2 linked regions of the Homo sapiens genome follow. The protein of the gene in region 2 interacts with the protein of the main gene of each other region in a biochemical or structural test. Each region holds a gene or a part of one and is shown on either strand. Other genes may lie near its edges.

Evidence for each region. The genes of interacting proteins can lie anywhere in the genome.
Region 1: of the proteins of RAB3IL1 (region 2) and MAP3K1, one has a biochemical effect on the other in vitro, tested with the Homo sapiens proteins (one large-scale study listed by BioGRID).

What each region holds. Positions count from the first base shown.
Region 1 is NC_000005.10:56,888,463-56,892,110, forward strand, and holds part of MAP3K1 (mitogen-activated protein kinase kinase kinase 1), read left to right. Parts: intron 1-3,648. UniProt on the Homo sapiens protein: Component of a protein kinase signal transduction cascade. Activates the ERK and JNK kinase pathways by phosphorylation of MAP2K1 and MAP2K4. May phosphorylate the MAPK8/JNK1 kinase.
Region 2 is NC_000011.10:61,900,513-61,904,160, forward strand, and holds part of RAB3IL1 (guanine nucleotide exchange factor for Rab-3A), read right to left. Parts: intron 2,030-3,648; coding exon 1,930-2,029; intron 1-1,929. UniProt on the Homo sapiens protein: Guanine nucleotide exchange factor (GEF) which may activate RAB3A, a GTPase that regulates synaptic vesicle exocytosis. Promotes the exchange of GDP to GTP, converting inactive GDP-bound Rab proteins into their active GTP-bound form.

The sequences.
Region 1 (3,648 bases), on a different chromosome or scaffold from region 2:
AATAAATAGTCTGTATATTTATTCAGAGAGGATTTGATATACAAGTTTTTTACTTTAAGATGGTGCAAAAGCAATACAAATTTGGTAAAAACCATACTTTGAATTTTGATTTTTGTCTGAGCTAGCAATATGTGCTATGATACACTGGTGATGCTAGGCAGTGGCAGCGAGTCACAGCTCCCAGTCAGCCACACAATCACGAGAGTGAACAACCAATACTCTATAGTGGACTGTGTTGTCAGATGATTTTGCGGAACAGTAGGCTAATGTAGGTATTATAAGCACATTCAAGGTAGGCCAGACTAAGCTATAATGTTTGGCAGGTTAGGTGTATTAACTGCATTTTCAACTTAAAAAAATATCATCAACTTAAAAGGGGTTTATCACGACATAACCTCAGCGTAAGTTGAAGAGCATCTGTGTATGTGTGTATTTCCAGGAGTTGATATTGTCAATGGTGTTGTCAATGTTAGTGACATACATAGTCACTTCTTGTTATTTGAGGTAGTTATGCTCTGTTAAGTTGCTACAAATATTGAATTAGCAAATACTAAAACACTGCTTCTAGAAGAAATATGTAGTGTGTTTATATGTATATGTATGTGTGTATATATATCCATCCATCACTTTAAAAACGTGAAATTCATGCATTTTACATAATTCAAAAATCTTAAAATCTAATTTACCATTTTCTTTTGTTCGTTTGTTTTTTGTTTTTGTTTTTGAGACAGAGTCTCGCTGCAGTGCCCAGGCTGGAGTGCAGTGGCACGATCTCAGCTCACTATAGCCTCCGCTTCCCAGGTTCAGGCAGTTCTCCTGCCTCAGCCTCCCAGGTAGCTGAGACTACAGGCACGCGCCACCATGCCCAGCTAATTTTTGTATTTTTAGTAGAGATGGAGTTTCACCATATTGGCCAGGCTGGTCTCGAACTCCTGACCTCAAGCCCACCTCAGCCTCCCAAAGTACTGGGATTACAGGCGTGAGCCACCACTCCTGGCCTAATTTACTATTTTGTATATTTTAAAAATTCACACCCAAGTCAGTTCAGTCCTGTCTGCCTTTCCTACTTTTTTATAACTCACAAATCCATTCTCTCCTTTTCCACCATAGAATAAGTAATGGTTGATATTCTTAGCTTTTCAGTAGATGTGATGGTTGAAATCATGGGCTTTGGAGTCACACTGACCTAGTTTTAAACCCTGGCTCTACCCCTTAATGGCCATGTAATCATAGGAAAATTATTTTTTGTGTCTACCCTCCATTTTCTCACATGTAAAATTGGTGCAAGAACCCCATGAAGCATGTACTTCGTGGGATTACTATGAAGATAAACAAAATTATACCTAGGCCTTAGTCAAGCACTCAGCCCACACAGTCAGCTCCACCTGCCATAACCTCCTCCAGTGCTCCCCACACTTATTATATAACCTCCTCAGTCACCTCTCTGACAATACCTGTTTTGTATTATCACCTCATTTCCTCTATTCTTTCAGACGTCCCATGTCCGTTCTCTACGTGGTTCAAATTCTTATTCTCTTTAAGGCCCCCATTTTGTGCTTCTCCTGCTTGGGCACCCCCTTTTTACTCATTCCAGATTCTCATAGCATTTTAGTACATACTTGTTTCTGACACTTTGTTTCTTGTTTGCTAGTTATGTTCCTATCTTGCTGCCTCTTTCAAACTAATTCTCCTTGAGGTCCATTCATGTCTGATTCATTTTCTTCTTCCCAGAGTCTTATACAGAAGTTGCTCAATAAATACTCATGGCTAGGATCAATTTGAAAGTTTGATGTTATTTTAAGAGTTTTGATGAGACCCTGGAAACAATTGTAAATAATTTTCAAATTGGCACAGTTCATATTTTAACAGATTTCATTGCATTCTCCTTCCTAGGTAGAGTTTAAAGAGAATTGTACTGTAACATTTTCAGTTTCCTTAATTTGGAGTAAATACTTTGAGGTTTTTGGAAGCACCCCAAAGCTTTCTCAAACACTTCCATACCCTGTTTATGGTAGTATAAATTGCCATAGCACGTTTTTTTAGAGAGTGATTTGGCAATATCTGCCAGAATTTTTAATGCACTTATTCTTTGACTCAGCTATGCCCATTGTTAGGAATTTACTCAAGATTACCTCTAGAAGTACCAAGTGCCAAGTTCAGGATTATTCACTCTACTCAAGAAAGTAATTAAATTATCCACACTATACAGAAATTAAACGAGTATGAAGCTGTTGGTGTTGATTTACAAAGTGCTACAAGATACATTAATAAGTGAAAAGAGCAAGGTATATAAAGTGATCCTGGCCAAGCACAGTGGCTCATGCCTGTAATCCCAGCACTTTGGGAGGCTGAGGCAAGAACAAAACTTGAACCCAGGAGTTGGAGAGCAGCCTGGGCATAGCGAGACCCCATCTCTACCAAAAAAAAAAAAAAATTAGCTGGGCATAGTGAGACGCACCTGTGCTCCAGGGTACTCAGGAGGTTGAGGTGGGAGGATCGCTTGAGCCCAGGAGGTCAAAGCTGCAGTGAGCCATGTTCATATCACTGCACTTCAGCCTGGGTGACAGTGAGAGCGAGACCCTGTCTCTAAATTAAGTTTTCTCTTTTGTAGACATTTTAGAAAATCTTAAGTCTGTGAATATATTGGCCTTTTTTCCTCCACAAAACACACACAGACACACACACACCCCCCCCCCCCACACACACACACACAAATCATCAGTAAGTTACATTTGGGGAAAAGAAGGAAGAGGGACTTTTTTTGTTTTGTATTTTTCCTTTTTGTGGTGTGTAAGATGTGTATATATCAGCTGAGTATATCATGATACAGGATCACAGACCTTAGAGGATTTTTCTTTATATTACTTTGCATTTTTTAACCCAAAGCATTTATGAAATTACTGGGGTAGGGAAAAGAGAGTTTTCTTGTGATTAGGAGTGGATAGGTGAGTTTAAAGTATTCAGACTTGATATTAGCCCTTTGTCAGATGAGTAGATTGCAAAAATTTTCTCCCATTCTGTAGGTTGCCTGTTCACTCTGATGGTAGTTTCTTTTGCTCTGCAGAAGCGCTTTAGTTTAATTAGATCCCATTTGTCAATTTTGGCTTTTGTTGCCATTGCTTTTGGTGTTTTAGACATGAAGTCCTTGCCCATGCCTATGTCCTGAATGGTATTGCCTAGGTTTTCTTCTAGGGTTTTTATGGTTTTAGGTCTAACATTTAAGTCTTTAATCCATCTTGAATTTTTTTATAAGGTGTAAGGAAGGGATCCAGTTTCAGCTTTCTACATATGGCTAGCCAGTTTTCCCAGAACCATTTCTTAAATAGGGAATCATTTCCCCATTTCTTGTTTTTGTCAGGTTTGTCAAAGATCAGATGGTTGTAGATGTGTGGGATTATTTCTGAGGGCCCTATTCTGTTCCATTGGTCTATATCTCTGTTTTGGCACCAGTACCATGCTGTTTTGGTTACTGTAGCCTTGTAGTATAGTTTGAAGTCAGGTAGCATGATGCCTCCAGCTTTGTTCTTTTGGCTTAGGATTGACTTGGCAATGTGGGCTCTTTTTTGGTTCCATATGAACTTAAGTAGTTTTTTCCAATTCTGTGAAGAAAGTCATTGGTAGCTTGATGGGGACGGCATTGAATCTATG
Region 2 (3,648 bases):
GTGGCAGGGACACCGCTGCACAGGGAGGGTTGAGGAGAGGCTGCGGCAGGAGGGTGGGGCAGGGCAGAGCTCAGGACAGGAGCAGGGACAGTGGATGCCCACAGAGGCTCATGAGCAGGGAGTAGCAGGGAGGGGGCTTTCCCTCTCCAGGGAGTGTGCTAGGGAGAAAACACTTCTCCCTGTGGACCCCACATGTCTTGGTCTTTCAGGGCAGGGACCACATCCTAAAACTTCAGACCCTCCTCACCTCATCTCCCACCCCCAGCTTCATCCAGTGCAGCAGGACACCCAGGCCAGGGACTTAAAGTGCTAGAGGTGACATTGTTGAGCACGGGAACATCTTTTGTGGGGCCTGCTGTTGAGCCATGGTTGGGCCTGGAAAGCGGTGATGGAGATAAGTGGCCACTGAACAAGGCTCAGTGGGCACAAATCCACAGGGTAGGGGCTGCAGTGGACTCAGAGCCAGGATCCCAGGTCTCGGTGTGTGGCCCTGAACACACCCCTTTCCTCTGCCAAGGCTCAGCCTCCCTTTTGGTAAATGGGTGCTCAGCACACCGCTGGGAGGACTCACGCTCGGATGCCTTGTGGAGTTCATCAAGGACAGTATAGTCTGCTGCCAGCAAAGGGACCATTTGTCCCCTTTAGACCTGCTCCCCTGCGAGGAGCCTCTAGCAGGCCTGAGATGGTTCCTCAAGCTGTGTCACTGGAAACGTGTTTCCAAACATGTTCTCTTGTTCCCCTCAATCCTCTTAAGAGTCAACAGAGGGACAGAGGAAGAGGAATCCCTGTCCTCAATCCCCAGCTTGGTGAGAACCCCTGTCCTGGTCTGGGTCACTCGGCAGGGGAGGGTGGGAGCTGGGATTCCTAGAGGCCCCTTGGCACTCACGGCCGACTTAAGGCTGGTGCACCAGACGCACCGCTGAACCTTTTCCAAAGCTTCGGCCAGCACCTGAGTCTGGGCGTCAGGAGCCCCGCACTCTAACTGGAACTCTAGCATCACTCCTGGATTAGGTGACATTGAATGACAGAGGGGGGCGATGTCATCCCATGACATTTCATACATAAGGCTGCATCTCAGCCGACTGGAGAGTGGCCCTCCTGATGGCTCTGAAGTCAGCTGCCCTGTGCAACAAGGCCCTGTGGCAGGGGACTGCGGGTGTCCTCTAGAAGCTGAGGGTGTCCCCTTGCCAGCAGCCAGCAAGAAAATAGGGGCCTCAGTCCTTCAAACACAAGGAACTGAATGCTGCCAACAATGTGAGTTTTGAGGAGGACCCTGACTTCCAGAAAGGAACACAGTCTGCTGACAGCTTACTGCGACCTTGCAAGTCCCTGAGCAGAGAATCCAGTAAGTAAGTAGTGCTTAGACTCCAACATGGGGAACTGCGCTATTTTAAGCTACCAGGTTGATAGTAATTTGTTACACCGTAATAGCAAACCACTGCCCTTGGCTTGGCTGTGTGGCCCGAGTCAGTCTCTGCGCCTCTCTGAGCCTGTACCCTGCTCTGTAAATCAAGATGTAAGGCTGGGCGTGGTGGCTCACACCTATAATCCCAGCACTTTGGGAGGCCGAGGCAGGCAGATCACTTAAGGCCAGGAGTTCGAGTTCAGCCTGGCCAACGTGGTGAAACCCCATCTCTACTAAAAATACAAAATTAGCTGGGCGTGGTGGCACATGCCTGTAATCCCAGCTACTTGGGAAGCTGAGGCAGGAGAATTGCTAATGTCTGCCTGGGAGGCAGACATTGCAGTGAACTGAGATTGTGCCACTGCACTCCAGCCTGGGTGACAAAGACTCTGTCTCAAAAAATAAATAAATAAAATAAGTAAATCAAGGTGTAGTGCTATTCATACTCCCAGGCCCAGGGCCCAGTGTCCCAGCACCCAGGTGGCCCCAAAGGAGTCAAGTAACGCTTGCAAAGGCTGACTCACCCTGGCCCGGGAAGATGGCGAGATGTAGTAATGGCTTTTGGAGTCCCCGAGCCGGATTCGGTGGCGGCAGGTGCGGGTCAGCCCGCTCAGGGCACATGTGCTAGGGGAAAGCAAAATGGGTCACGGGGGCTGGCTGGGGCTTGCCCCTCTCCCTCACCCCTGCATACAGGGAAGATGCAGCAGCTGAGAGGATGCATGGGGAGGGGCAGGCCTCCCTTCCCCCACCCGGCTTCCAAAGGAACCCAGAGCCAGGCAGAGAAGGGAGCTGGCCCCAGCCATCCCTGGGACAGACCTCGAACTAAGCTGAGCTGTACCCCTAGAACCCTTGTTTTGCCCCTACTGGGCAAGAGAGCTTGGTTAATCTCATGCCAGGTGTACAAAGTCCCACCCTCTGCAGGCTCTGCATATGCCTCTCCCTCTACTTCTGGGGACTCAGACCAGGCACTCCTCCCCCAACTAGGCCAGAGTTGAGGTCTGGCTGCCTCCCGCTTCCCAACATCCAGCAGCTCCCCTGCTTCATCCATGCAGGCCTTCTGACCCCACTAACCCCCATGGTTCTCAGCCGCATGCCAACCAACCCCGTCTAAGAGCCTTCTCCCATGCCCTCTTCTCTCCTCCCCCCAGTCCTGCATGACGTCGCTCAGCATCTTCAGCCACCCACATGAAGGGTCTCCACAGGCCCTGAGCAACCCCCATCTGGGCCCCACTCCCCAAACCTGCTCTTCACTGGCCATCATCTGCTCGGCTCTCTCCTCCTCACCCTCTGCTTGGTCACCAAGTCCCCAGGCCAGGGCACAGCAGCAGTACTTTTGGCCTGCATCCCCTTGGCTCCTTCTGGCCAGCTCTCTGCCTCATCGCTCTCTTTCTTCTCCACATCAGAGCCAGGGCTCCTCCAAAAACCCACATCTAACCCATCATCTTTCTCTCTTGCTTTCCTAATTCCCAAGAAATGGGGAGAATCCCAAATAAATGAAGGTTTAAAAAGCTCCTTGGCTGCGGACTTATCAGAGCATTTGTTGCCTCCTGGTTCACTGGGACTCTCTGATGGACCAGAGAGCCTCTTTTCAGGTGGCAGCTATTGATGACTTTTTTTTTTTTTTGAGACAGGGTCTCACTCTGTCACCCAGACTGGAGTGCAGTGGTGCAATCTCAGCTCACCACAACCTCCGTCTCCCAGGCTCAAGCAATTCTCCTGACTCAGCCTCCCGAGCAGCTGAGATTACAGGCGTGTGCCACCACACCCGGCTAACTTTTATATCTTTAGTAGAGATGGGGTTTTCTCCATGTTGGCCAGGTTGGTCTCAAACTCCTGACCTCAAGTGATCCACCCGCCTCAACCTCCCAGAGTGCTGGGATTACAGGTGTGAGCCACTGCACCCGGCCTATTGATGACTTTTGCCGCACTGGCTGGTGGGTTAAAGCCCAAACCTGTGAAGGCTCTTTATACTCTGGCCCCAACAGCCTCTGCAGCCTCCACCCCAATTCCCTGTCCCCCCACTGCTTAGCCAGATGCCCCAGTGGTGCTTCCGTTAATACTCCAGCTTCTCACACCTTTGCACATTCCGTTCCCTCTGCCTGAAATGCCCTTCCCTGCTTGGCAAACTTCTATTCATCCTTCAAAACCTGGCTCAAATGCTCCCTCTCCGTGATGAGCCTCCCACCAGGGCACCAGCCATCCCCAGCCAGGCTCTTGGCTGCCAAGGTGAAATCCTCCCCAAT